Homo sapiens: one gene and its partners. The protein of the gene in region 2 purifies or fractionates together with the protein of the main gene of each other region. This does not show direct contact. Each region holds a gene or a part of one and is shown on either strand. Other genes may lie near its edges.

Evidence for each region. Proteins that work in one complex are often made in the same cells at the same time.
Region 1: the proteins of ATRNL1 (region 2) and LYSMD4 fractionate together in Homo sapiens (co-fractionation; one large-scale study listed by BioGRID). This does not show direct contact.
Region 3: the proteins of ATRNL1 (region 2) and MCOLN1 fractionate together in Homo sapiens (co-fractionation; one large-scale study listed by BioGRID). This does not show direct contact.
Region 4: the proteins of ATRNL1 (region 2) and CLCN4 fractionate together in Homo sapiens (co-fractionation; one large-scale study listed by BioGRID). This does not show direct contact.

What each region holds. Positions count from the first base shown.
Region 1 is NC_000015.10:99,730,438-99,733,506, forward strand, and holds the start of LYSMD4 (lysM and putative peptidoglycan-binding domain-containing protein 4), read right to left. Parts: upstream 1,571-3,069; 5' UTR 1,563-1,570; coding exon 1,281-1,562; exon of another isoform or gene 986-1,280; coding exon of another isoform or gene 921-985; exon of another isoform or gene 772-920; coding exon of another isoform or gene 736-771; exon of another isoform or gene 358-735; intron 1-357.
Region 2 is NC_000010.11:115,299,365-115,302,864, forward strand, and holds part of ATRNL1 (attractin-like protein 1 isoform 1 precursor), read left to right. Parts: intron 1-669; coding exon 670-883; intron 884-2,490; coding exon 2,491-2,679; intron 2,680-3,500. UniProt on the Homo sapiens protein: May play a role in melanocortin signaling pathways that regulate energy homeostasis.
Region 3 is NC_000019.10:7,525,624-7,529,123, reverse strand, and holds part of MCOLN1 (mucolipin-1), read right to left. Parts: intron 2,686-3,500; coding exon 2,518-2,685; intron 2,364-2,517; coding exon 2,198-2,363; intron 1,605-2,197; coding exon 1,496-1,604; intron 1,261-1,495; coding exon 1,164-1,260; intron 967-1,163; coding exon 867-966; intron 528-866; coding exon 421-527; intron 304-420; coding exon 154-303; intron 24-153; coding exon 1-23. UniProt on the Homo sapiens protein: Nonselective cation channel probably playing a role in the regulation of membrane trafficking events and of metal homeostasis. Acts as a Ca(2+)-permeable cation channel with inwardly rectifying activity.
Region 4 is NC_000023.11:10,163,475-10,166,974, reverse strand, and holds part of CLCN4 (H(+)/Cl(-) exchange transporter 4), read right to left. Parts: intron 1-3,500. UniProt on the Homo sapiens protein: Strongly outwardly rectifying, electrogenic H(+)/Cl(-)exchanger which mediates the exchange of chloride ions against protons.

The DNA of each region.
Region 1 (3,069 bases), on a different chromosome or scaffold from region 2:
GTAAGTCAAAGGGTAACCCCTCCCTCAAACTAATGTTTGAAAACTTTCCAAAAGCATCAGAGATGAACTCCAAACTTTTAACACTTAAGTCCACTTAAACTAGAAAGTGAATACAGCCAACAGATCTCAATCAAATCAATCATTTCCATTATTATTCAGCAACTGCTGTTATTGTAACTGATTTGGGGTAGGGGACATTTTTAATTCACTATGTCCTGAATCTAATGCATGAGACCCTTGAGATCTTTCTGTCTCTGCCTTCAATAAATTAAGAGCAAATTTATTTACTTCAAATAGGAAAACTGATCACTTATCAAAGGCTTTATATATTCTTTACGGATTTAGACATCACCATACCAAGAAGCCTACTCCATCTATTCCGGTCTTTGTAGGACAGGCTTCATTTTTCAGCCCATGTTCTGTAAGCCACACAGTATGCCTGCAGAAGCTGCTTATCGGAGCCAAATATAATTGTCAGTACAATTTAAAGACCACTATGTGTCCCCGGAGACCAACCTGTTTATTTCCCTGAAAGACCGCAACACCCCACACAACATGTTTCAGACATTTGGACCTTGTTAGATAAGACACTTGTAGGAGAAAGAGATTTCTTAAATTAAGTAGCTTATATACCCCTAGAGAAGGCCATACAAATCTGTAGCACAGTGTTAGCAAAGTGAAACAGTTGCAATCTAGGAGAAAATGCAGCAATTCTAGAAATACTTTCCTACTTACTTTGCCATTGTTAATCACTCTGAATGCTGAAAACATAATTAGAGAAAAACAGGGTTATATAGATACACAGCATACAAAAGACCATGCAGTTCTAAACGAGAGAAGGTAAAACTTTACCAAAAGTCAAGTAAGCTACCACCAAGAAAGGTTCAGAAAAATAAGAGCAGCGAGAAAAGCAAGCATACCATAGAAATCCGGAATTAAATTCTGCCTGGTATCTCCAGCCCCATTAGGTCTAAAATAAAATGTGCTCGAAAGAAGAAAAAAGGTTTCAGAATTTCAGTGTGGAGAAAACAGGAAAAGGAGAAGTTCCCTGCAGAGAAAGAAATGCGCTAACCCTCCCTCTTTGGGGGCCAGGGTTGGGAACTAAAGGTACTCCCACCTGCATTCCAATTCTGGCTAAATAGGGGAGTCCTTGGCTGCTACAGCAGGCCTCTCCTGACGGCCTGGCAGGGTTAAGAAGGGCGGCAAGGGCACCCACCCTGCAGTGAGTTCCCCGTGTTCCTTGAAACGGAGCGGGGCAGGGCCCCTGAGGGGTGTCTTACTTTGCAGCCATACTGCAGCGCCAGCTTGTTGAGGCTGTCCTCCTGGGCCAGCTCCCGCTGCAGCAGCACCACGTCACCTGCTCCCGCCTGGGGAGGCTGGTGGACACCGCTCTTGTGGCGCTCCTTGCCCCGGGGCCGCAAAACCACACGGTGAGACTCTTCTTCAGAAGAGTCCCCCGAGTCCCCACTGCCATTCTTAAACATGTATACGTGGCTGGTCGGAGTCCCACACACAACAGCTGGGCCTTGGAAGGTCTTGGTTAACAATTCCTCGTGCCTCATTTTCTTCACTGAAAATCAAGCCGGAGGGTTAATTCCACAGAAGACATAATCATCCCTCCACCGCCTCGTTTAAAGAGAAGTGTCTTGTTAGAGAGTATTCCTTTTCCTAATCGCTGCAAATACTCAGCATACATCATCAACAGAAAAAAAAGAATGTGCTTATGCTGGCTGAGATGGAAGAAGATAGGCAGAATAAAAACCCTTTGTTTTTTCTAATCGCATACGTTTTGTGCAGAAAACGAACCCCGCCCCTGTTCCTCATCCATAGCTGTCTCCCCTAAACCCACATCTGTAAAGAAACAACTACTTTTGCTCTCAGAGTAGTAAGTTGAGATCCTTGCAATGGCAAGTAAGGGCTGCCGCCAGCCTCCGCGCACTCAGAATCTTCAACTCAGAAGCTTTGCACAATAATTTTGTATTCAATATTTTACACATTGCAAAGTATCTTCACTAAGAAGGTCAGCGCTAAGGACTCTTGCTCAGAACTGTGGGGCTAAACTGCTCTTACTTTGACACAGTTTAACTCACAGTATGTGGGGCAAGCTACGGGGAGAACTCATGCCTGTCAGCCGGAGAAAAGCGTCCAGTTTGCTCACGGGTCACTTTGCATTCATTACATCCCCATTGTCTGGTTTTTATTTTCCCCTTGAGTCAACAGCCAAAGCCGCAAGACCCCTGTTCCTCTCTCCAGATTGTTCGCGTGAGATTCCAGAAACGAAATCTCAAACACGCGGGCTGACAACTTCAGAAAAAGGTGGCTTCGGAGCCACAGGGGAGCAGCCCGTACGGGGACAGCCTGCGGCCCCAGCTCGACCCCCTACTCCCCGCCCACGCCTTCGAGGGTCACAGGCCCACACCCCGCTCCGCGCGCTCCTGAGCCTGCCCGGAGGCGGGAGGCGGCCGGCGGTCCTCGGGGGGTTGAGGGTCACCTGCAGGACCACGGCGGCAGCCCGGGGACGGGGCCAGCCTTCGCGTCCGAGCTCAGGGGCGGCGGCAGCAGCTCCAGGCCCGCTTCCCTCCAAGTCCCTTCTGCGAAAAGATGGGGCACCTCAACAAGAGCTGACAGGAAAATGGGGAGCGGCCCGGCCCCAGGGCTCCACGGCTCCACGGGCGGGGCCCTAACATTCCAGAGGGCAGAACCTCTGACCTCTGACCCCCAACCCTAGCCACCTGGGGCCAGCCCACGACAGTCGCGGTCACCGCCCCTCCAGCTGGAGCGTCCCCCTAGGAGCCCGGGGAGGGGCGGCCCGCCCGCGAACCCTCGAGCGAGGCCAGGTCGCCGTACCGCCATGAGCCCGCGCGGCTCCCTAGCCAGACCGCGGCCCCCTCGTCCAGGCCCCGGTACCTCAGCGCCCAGGCTCCGCCGCGACCGGCGACCGGCGACTCGCGACCCGCGACCCGCGACCCGCAGCTGCCACCGCGCCTGCGGATTGGCTACGAACATCAGCAGGGCCCCCCTGGGGGCGGGACTGGGGAGGCAGCCAATGAAGTCAGCGCTGGGCGGGCA
Region 2 (3,500 bases):
TTTGTCAATCTTAGTTAAATTATAGGCACGAGCATCAGATTTTATTACTTTTGTTGTTTTTTGTTAATAAAATTATATGACATAAATTTATCCAAAAATCATATAGAAGTCCAGATTTATTTGTAGACGTCTGAGCTAAGAGAGAGGCAGTTATTCTTCTGTAAGTCTTTTTGCTAGGTCTTGTTATGAAGTCTTCACTCAGACTCTATATATTGTTTGTTGATTTTATTTTCTAGTTTCACAATGCAGATAATGGCAATTTATCTTTAGAGTCTTAATCCTATAACTGATTACATTGATAGTAGTAATAGTAATAGAAGCAGCAGCAGCAATAACAATATGTTAAGTTTTTAAATAATCCTACCTTATCAGATAGATAATTATATCTCCACTTTATAGAAGAGTAAACTGAGGTTCATGAAGGCTAAATAAATTATTCCAATCATGTAGCTAAATATAAAACCTGTGTTTTAAAAACAGTGTTCTATTCTACATCATTCTCCAAAATATGCTATAATTGTTAATTATTCTTAGTACTAAAACTCATTAGAAAGGCAGCTTTATATATTTTCAAATATAATTTTTAATGATAGTGAACTATTTGCTAAGGAATATGCCATATTTTTACATCTAACTTTCTTTGAATGCCCCTTTTCCTGTTGTTTACAGAAAGTATCACCTTGGGTAGGCTTGCGCAAGATCAATATATCCTATTGGGGATGGGAAGACATGTCTCCTTTTACAAACACAACACTACAGTGGCTTCCTGGCGAACCCAATGATTCTGGGTTTTGTGCATATCTGGAAAGGGCTGCAGTGGCAGGCTTAAAAGCTAATCCTTGTACATCTATGGCAAATGGCCTTGTCTGTGAAAAACCTGTTGGTAAGTAGTCCAGTAAATTAGCATTCCTTTAAAAGTATGTTTCCCACCCATCTTCTCATTCCTTCCTTCTAGGGTGTAGTCTTATTCTATGATATTTATGTAAATTTTATTTTTATACACATTCTTCCCCACTTACTATTAGTGATCTCAGCATTAACTTGTGAAAATAACATAATATTATTATTTTATGCAAACTTTGTTGGTTCAAATAGTGAGATTGTGGTTGTAGTTACTTATAATATGACAATAATCTATTCTTAATTCATTAATGTCTTTTACTTTTATCATGATAGTGTTTGGGAAGAAGATTTGCTTTTAAGATTAATGGCTAATTGGGACTCCTTTTACTCTTGTAGACATATTTCAGTTATCAAGTAAAAAGAAACATTTTTGTTACATCTTCTGAAATGGATTTTTGTTAAGTAAGAAAGGAATATTGAATTCTTTTCTTTTAAATCTTATATTTTTATCATGGTAAAATGTACTTAAAATTTACCATTTTAACCATTGTAAATGTATTTTAATGCCAATTCAATGGCATTAAATACTTTGACACTGTTGTGCAAACATCATCACCATTTAGCTCCAGAACTTTTTCATTTTGCAAAACTAAAAATCTGTACCCATTAAACAATAACTCTCCATTTCCTCCACCCCACCCCCTACAGTCCCTAGCAACTACTGTTCTACTTTCTGTCTCTATGAATTTACTACTTCAGGTACCTCATATGGTGAAATCATACAGTATATGTGCTTTGTGACTGGCTTATTCCCTTAGCATAATGTCTTTAGGGTTTAACCAAGTTGTAGGATATATGAGAATTTCCTTCCTTTTTAAGGTTGACCAATATTACATTATATGTAAATACTACATTTTGTTCATCCATTCATTTATCAATGGATACTTGCGTTGCTTCTACCTTTTTGCTATTGTGAGTAATGCTGCTATGAATGTGGGTGTATGAATAACTGTTCAGCTTCTTGCTTTCACTTCTTTGGGGTATATATATATAGCCAGAAGCAGAATTACAAAATAATGTGGCAATTCTGTTTTTCACATTCCCACCAGCAGTGCACAAAGGTTTCAATTTCTCTCCATCCTTGCCAATATTTATTTCCTATTATTTTTAAATAATGGCCATCTTAAAGGCTGTGATAAATATTGTATCTTGTGTAATATTTTATGATAAGCTGTATTTTTATTCTTTGTTTATATCAAAGACATGTTCACTTACAGGACATTTACTTTGTAAGATGTGGAATGCTATGGAAAACGTGGCTGGGAAAAAATTGTGGCTGGGAAAATAAACAGTGCTGGTATACAAACTAGGTCATAGATTACATTACTGCTTATAATACTTAAAATTATACAACTTTATATACTTTGTAAAGAATTACAAATTTCAAAGGAGTTATACATTTTCAAATTTAATAAAAATTTTAAGAAGTATTGATATATCATCTTTGTTTTTATCTACCTCATCATATTATAATGCCACAGTTGGCTTAATTGAAACATGCCCTGAACAGCAAAGCAAAGAAAACCCATACAATTGTGTTAACATGAAGTTAAAAATGAAATTATTGTATTTGTTTATTTATTCCAGTTAGTCCAAATCAAAATGCGAGGCCGTGCAAAAAGCCATGCTCTCTGAGGACATCATGTTCCAACTGTACAAGCAATGGCATGGAGTGTATGTGGTGCAGCAGTACGAAACGATGTGTTGACTCTAATGCCTATATCATCTCTTTTCCATATGGACAATGTCTAGAGTGGCAAACTGCCACCTGCTCCCGTAAGTATTTATCTAGAGTGACTTTTCACTTGACAGCAACGTAAATTTACTTTTCTGTGATGTAAAGAAGAATTAAATATTTGAAGAAGTTTCAAAAAATGAGAAAAAATATTGTTACGGCTACTTTTGAAACCAACTGGTACTGTTAACCTCTGATTTTTATTATATCATCATTTTGCATGCCACTAAGTATCTTACCCTAAATATTAACATATTGCCACATATGTACAGCCTCTTTTCCCTGAACTGTGTGTATGTTGCAGACAGTATAACACTTCATGAGAGTGTTCACCTCAAACATCACAGATTGCTTTGGTGAGCCTTTTTAGTATCTTTTAATCTAGTGCAATTCCCATATCTTTTCCTTATATGACTTTGATATTTTTGAATAACCTATACCAATTGTTTTGGAGGTTTCTCAATTTGGATTTGTCTAATTTTTCCCTCATGATTAGATTCAGGAAAGCATTTTGGGGCAAGAATATTTTATCAATGTTGGTATATCTGCTACAAGTATAGAATGCACAGTCTTGAAATCACATAGAGTTATGTCAGCAGGGCAGTACTGGGCTTGCTATGAGTTATACTTCAGGAGAAAGATTTTGCCCCTTGCTGATCTCTCATGTTTTCTAAGGACTATAGGATAAGGCTGCACCTGAATGAATATTTAATACTGGGTACTATGTGGTGAGAGTGGCCTTGCTTACAAACACAAATGGCGTCAGAATACAGCTGCCAAGGGAATTGCATAATGCTACTGGGAGCACTTGTTAGCCTTGTAGGAACTTAAGACCGTGTGAAACTCTTTCTGCTTGGGAGAA
Region 3 (3,500 bases), on a different chromosome or scaffold from region 2:
CAGACGTCGTAGCTCGCCAAGTTCTGCGGGTGGGAGCTGCGTCAACCTATCTGGCCCAGCCCTTCCTTTGGGGGGCCTGGGGGAGGATATGGCCCCGGATAGGCACTGACAGCAGGGATGGGACCTGGGGCCCAGGGTGTTGGCAGGACGCACCTTGGCCTCGATGCCGATCTTCATGATGGTGCCCGAGATGGTGAGCACATCGCTGGTGACGAGCAGGATGTACCAGCCATTGACAAATTCCAGCCGCTCCCACAGGCTGATGACCCGTCCCCGCTGCCGCCACATGAACCCCACAAACTCCTGCAGAAGGCAGGCGGGGTGAGGGCCTGACCAGGCACAGGACCCTCAAAGCCCTGGCTTTTATCGCCCCAGGGCCAGGCGGGGAGGACACCAGCACACATGACGCAGAAGCCTCACGTTCTGCAGCAGGAAGCCTCGAAGGAGTGAGCGGGCGCAGAGGAGGAAGGACAGGGAGCAGGTGAGGATGACCACCACGTCAAACAGGAGCCGGAAGCTGTTGTCTCCTGCGGGGAGGGCAGAGCGGGTAGGGCCAAGGATGGCATGGAGCCTTGGGAGGCTAGCATTGGTGCCAGGCCAGGCTGGAGACCTAGGGGGCTGCACGGCTGGTTTTGGTTGGTCAGTGGGCTCAGGGCTTGCTTGGGGTGAGTCAAGAACCCCGGTCAGTGCTGGTCTGGGGCTTGGGGGATCTCAGCACAGGACGGGGTCCCTGGTCTGTGCTGATCTGAGGCTCAGCGGATTCCTGGGGAGGTCACGGCCCCCAGGCAGCGCTGATCTGGGGCTTGGGGAATCCCAGGACAGGCCAGGGCCCCTGGTCAGTGCTGGTCTGGGGCTCAGGGGCTCACCGTGCTGGAAGACACTGGGGTGCTTACACTCCTGGATGTGGGCCTGGGTCTCCAGGCTGATGGGGATCCGCCCACTGTGTGCTTTGTTGTCAAACGTGATCTGTGGGGGCCAGTTGGGGGCAGAGTAAACCTTGGCAGCCCCAAGCCCCAAGGTCCACATGACAGGTGGCCTGACAGACCCCGGGCTCCCTCCCTCATCACCCGCACGCTTGCCCTTGGCCAGTGCTCCCAAGACACTCCCTGACCAGGTCCCTGCCCTGGAACTCAGGAGCCCTGTGGGTTCCCGGGGGGCCTCACCAGGACGCTGAAGGTATAGCAGTCCGGGATCTCATTATTGATGAGGCTCTGGAGGTTAATGGTCTTCAGCCGGAAGTGGATGGTGACATTGACCAGCCTAGGCAGGAGGCTCGGGTGAGGGTCAGGGGCGTCTTCGGGTCCCTTCCGGCCCCAAGTGCCAGCGTCCCCTGCCACGTGCTGACTCTGCAGCTGGCAGGGGAAGTGCTCACCCAGCAGGCACCAGCGCGGGCGGGGGGGCCCTGTCCCCACCTTAGGGAAGTAGTTGCTGGGGTGAGAGTGCCTAGTGTGCTGCCTCCCCCACCCTGGGCCCCCCTCGAGTGAGCAGGCAGTACTTGTGGAATTTGAGCGTGAGGTTCTTGTAACTGGAGCTGCTTTCCAAGAGGGTGAGATCGTCGCTGGGGGGCGGAGGGGGCCGCTCGGGGGGATCCACCTGGATGCAGTCTAAGGACAGGGAGTCAGGGAAGGGCCTCAGGGGGCCGGGGAGGCCAGGCTGGTCTCCCCAGAGTCCCCAGTGGCCTTCTTCCCTGTGCTTCCCCAGGGTTGGGTCATTCCTACAGGCCTGGCACTCTCTGGGCCTGCGGATGTTTTACTGAATGAGCCATATTAAAATATAACATCTGGTGCTTTCTACGTGGCAAGAGTCACACTCACACTAAGCATACTTGTTTTTTTTTTTTTTTTTTTTTTTTGAGACAGGGTCTCACTCTGTCACCCAGGGTGGAGTGCAGCAGCGTGGTCATAGCTTACTGCAGCCTCAACCTCCCGGACTCAAGCGATCCTCCTGCCTCAGCCTCCTGAGTAGCTGGGACCACAGGGGCACGCCACCACGCCCAGCTAATTTGTTTGTGCGTAGAGACAAGGTCTTCCTACGTGGCCCAGGCTGGTCTCAAACTTCTGGCCTCAAGCAATCCTTCCTCCTCAGCCTCCCAAAGTGCTGGTATTATAGGCGTGAGCCACCGTGCCCAGCCACAGCTGTTGATTTTAATCCCAGCAGCTCAGGCTCCCAACAGTGAAGCCTCGTCCTGCCCACTCACCAGTAACCACCATCGGATCAATGTCAAATGTGTCGTTGGCCGGGTCCACGTGGCCTCGGTGGTAGTACCGCTGGCAGAGAGCAAGCCCTGAGCCATTGGTCCAAGGGTCACCCCCACCACGGACATACGCATACCGGCCCAGTGACACGTCAGGCAACGCCAGGTACTGTGGGCAGAGAAGGGGAGGGCCTGTGAGTCCGGCCCGCTCTCTGCAGCCCACCCACCTGCACCTGCCCGCCCACCAGCACCTGCCCGCCCAACTGCACCTGCCCGCCCACCTGCACCTGCCTGCCCACCAGCACCTGCCCGCCCACCAGCACCTGGTCCACAGCATGGAAGATGGCCTGGTACAGCTGCTCCCGCGTGTAGGCTGCGAAGGTGTCATCCGCTCCGTCCGAGTAGCCCAGCAGGAAGAGGTGTCGGAAGGCGATGGTGTTCTCTTCCCGGAATGTCACAGCCAGCTGATTACTGAGCCCAAACAGGATGAGCTGGGGAGAGGGTAGTAGAGGTTGGCATGGCTAGGATGGGGGTTGGGGTGTATCTCCCTCAGGGCACAGGCCCTGGAAGAGGACAGGGAGGGCCCTGCAGATGTCCACTGGGGTGGGGCAGGGCCCTGCTAACTTGGGCCACAAACACGGATTTCACTTGTGCATTTCTTTGCTTTGATTAATTTCACCCCACCTCCTGGCATAAGCTCCATGCCACGCCCACCACTGTGTCCTCCCCCGTACAACACAGGGTGGGGACTCATCTATCTCACTGCAGGGACTAACGTTCATTAAATGTTTACTGGATGTCCGATTCTGTGTTAAACCCAAACTTTCAGGGTAAGTACCATGACTGGGTCCCTTTTCTTTTCTTTTTTGAGACAGAGTCTCACTCTGTTGCCCAAGTTGGAGTGCCATGGTATGATCTCAGCTCACTACAACCTCCACCCCCTGGGTTCAAGCAATTCTCCTGTCTCAGCCTCCTGAGTAGCTGAGTTACAGGTACCTGCCACCAAACCCAGCTAATTTTTGTATTTTTAGTAGAGACGGGGTTTTGCAATGTTGGCCAGGCTGGTCTCAAACTCCTGGCCTCAAATGATCCACCCAACTCAGCCTCCCAAAGTGCTGGCATTACAGGCATGAGCCACCATGCCTGGACAATTGGGTCCCTTTTCAGAGGGAAAATTAGAGGCATGGTGACATGCTAAAGTCAGCCCAAAACATGAAGTAAGCACTTAGGGCAGTGGCTGGGTCTGATTCATCTTGGGGTTCCCAGAGCCCAGCACAGGGTCTGGCATGGGGGAGGGAGAACTATC
Region 4 (3,500 bases), on a different chromosome or scaffold from region 2:
CATGGCAGGCTTCCTATGGACCCAGGGCCATGCAGCCATTCGTTCCACGTTGAAACCCAGCCCACGTGTTGGAAATAGGATGAGGCCAACCACATGTGGCCTCGGGTGACACAATGGCCTCAGTGTTCTCACACCCCCATCCCAGGGACAGGAGGGCTGGGCTGTGAGGTGTTTGTGTTGCTGGTGCCAAGAGCCAAGGGTTTGGAATTTCCCCAGAGACTTCTTCCCATAATAATAGTCACAACGCCTTTGTACAGGGCTCCGTGTACCTGGCTTCATTCTAAGCACTTCCCCCGTGTATGAAGTACCGCCTCCCTCAGGCCCACGTTACAGATAAGTTACAGATAAGCAAACTGCGGCACAGAGGTTAAGTCTCACACACAGTGAGGGGGCAGCTGGATCCAGCCCAGGTCCCAGGGGCCTTTCTCCACAACAGCAGGCAGGCCTCTGCCACCTCAGGACCCAGAGCCATGTGCCTCCATGGAGAGGGCACTGGGGGCCACGTTTCTCCTACACCGTGTGAGAATAGCTTAATTAAAGGCCCCTGGGTCGCGCTCTCATGCATCCACAAAAAAATGCTGCTGCACGTGCTTGCTAGGGCTGCCGTAACCAAGCACCACGGACTGGGTGGCTCAGATAACAGAAAAGGGTTTTCTCCCAGTTCCGGAGGCCAGAAGTCTGAGATGAAGGGACGCGCGCTGCTGATGCCTTCGTTTCACCATGATGACCTCTGTCAAGGCCCTATCTCCAAATAAGGTCACGTCTTGAAGTACTGAAGGTTAGGACTTGAATCTATGAATTTGTTGGGGACACAGTTCAAGCCATCACAGCTGCTGAAGACAGTGCAGGTGGGAAATCCCTCGCTCTTCTGGCACCTCCACAGCCTGGCCTTCCCTTCACCATTTTCTGACAGGTTTTCTCCACAACAACCTATTTTCTGCTTATCCAAGGTTCACACCCCCTCATGGATAAAAAGAAAATTTCAGGAGCCACTCGTGACTGGCAAGTGTGTAAAGCCTAAATGCTGGAAGGCACCCAAAACCGCGTTCATGTGCTGTTCCTGGTGGCCCGGGACGCCACGGTGAAGAGAGGCAGGCCACTCTGACCAACACACGGGCTGACATTTGAGCCAATTCCATGTTTGGGGTAAAAGGCGAGCTGGTGTGATGCGTGACTAAGCTAAGAGGAACAATCTCTCGGCTATCTGCTAACCACAGAGGCCTTTTCACCCAACCAGCACCTCCAGGGGTTAGAGTGGAGGGCGAAAAAGAACTTTCATATTTAGCCAAATCAACCCAGAAGGGAAGTGAAGAGCCAAGAGATAGGAGGACACAGTCAGCCCATCGGGAAGCATCGCGAAACTGCGGGCAAGGCTCAGGGGAGCGGCAGCCACAGAGAGGAGCCGCAGGCCCAGCACCCAGGACCAGGAGCAGCCTCCCCCATAAGGAAACACAGCGTTGGGGTAGCTCTCACATCAGCAAACCCCAAACCCATCCTGGGCGCCCCAACTGCCTCAGATGGAAAGAGGGGAACACCACCCTCAGGGGGAGCGCCCACCCACAGCCTCTCCTTCATGACCCTGCTGTTCCCATGTGTCGTCCCCAGGGCAGGTCAAGGGCCTGACCCCAGCCTTCCAGGACTCTCCTCTTCTGCAGCTTCAAGAGGGGTTCAAGTCCCCTCTGTGAGGAAGGCTCCGGTCTCACATCTACTTTCAACCCAGCCAACAGCAGGCTCTCTGTTGAATACGAGGGGGCTGAGTGCTCAGGGCTGAGGGAATAGCCAGTGCAAAGGCCCTGGGGCAGGGCAGGACCACGTCAAGAACAGTGTGAAGATGGCAAGCCAGCAGGCAGGGGCTTCCATGAACCCCCGATTGCAGGCCACTGCATCCCGCAGAAGCGCACGTGACAGGCGGTGCAGGGCGACCAGGGCCACTTGGAGAAGGCAACAAGGGAACAAGTGTGGGGGTTGACCCTCCAGCCACAGAGAACAGCCAATTCAGAGACTCAGTGGCAGGAACAAATGTGCTGGGCCCGAGGACAGCAAGCAAGCTGTGTAGCCAGAATCACCGGAGCCACCGGCAGCCTGACAGCTTGGGAGACTTCAGCCACGACAAGAAGCGGGAAAGAGAGCTTTTCAGGTGTCATGTGGGAATGTGCATGGCCATTTCCTCTGCTGTCCCTGGGAGGCCACCGCCCATCAAAGGTGATGCTGCGACTGAGCCGGATGCATGAGGACACGTCTGCAGCCTCCATGTCCTGCCCTGTAGTTCACACTACCCTCCCACGCCAGGCTTCTTTGATCACCAAGGGCCCACTCTGGCACCTAGGACAACATTGCTGCTAAAGAGGTTAGCTCCTCAGTCCAACTCACCTGGTCACCCTGGCCACTCCCCATCTGGCCTCCAGCCTCGCCTCCTAGCCTCCTTGCTGGCTGCCCTGCTTTCTTTCTCACCCACCTCTGACTCTGCTCCTGACAGCAGCCAGTCCTTTTAACCCAGTCTCAACATGTCACTCCCCGACACAGGAGCATCCAGTGGCTTTCCATCACACTGAGGACAATCCAGGGTTGACACCACAACTGCCAGTTCCAGGATGGCCTGCCCCCTGCGCCCCTCTGAGCACCTGTCCCCACCCCTACTCTCTGGGTAGCTCTACTTTGCACACGCCGATCTCCCTGCTTTCCGCAAACGCTTCCTGTCCTGCCCTGCCTCAGGGCCTTTGCACTGGCTGTTCCCTCAGCCCTGAGCACTCAGCCCACCGTGCTCAAGTGGCTCTCTCTCCATTCGGATCTCTGCTCAAGTGCGACCCCTCAGAGAGGCCTTCTTGCCCTCCCTGACCAGCGTTTGGAGTCCAGTGCTGTGCATCCTTTGCTGTCCATCCTTTCACTCAACACACAGCCTATCCAACAGCTACTTCCTCTTCCCTCAGCTCAAATCAGTCCCGTGAGGGCAGGAACCTTGTCCATTTGGTCCTAACATGTATCCCACTGCCTAGACTTGTAGGACTCAACCAACTGGGGGCAATACTGACCCCCAGGGGACATTTGGCCATGTCTAGAGACATTTTTTGTTATTACAACTGGGAGATGGGGTGCCACTGGCATCTAGTGGATGGTGGCCAGGGATGCGGCTCAATACCCTACATTGCCCAGAACAGCCCCCCATAAAAATGAATCATCTGGACCCTAACGTCCACAGTGTCAAGGTTGAGAAACCCTGGCCTAGACGCACAGACCCAAGGAATATTTGCTGAATGAAGAAGTAATTAAGGGGCCGGGAGCAGTGGCTCAAGCCTATAATCCCAGCACTTTGGGAGGCCGAGGCGGGCACATCCCCTGAGGTCAGGAGTTCGAGACCAGCCTGGATAACATGGTGAAACTCGTCTCTACTAAAAATACAAAAATTAGCCAGGCGTGGTGGTGCGTGCCTGTAATCCCAGCTACAAGGAGGCTGAGGCAGGAGAATCACTTGAACCTGGGAGATGAAGGTTGCAGTGAGCCGA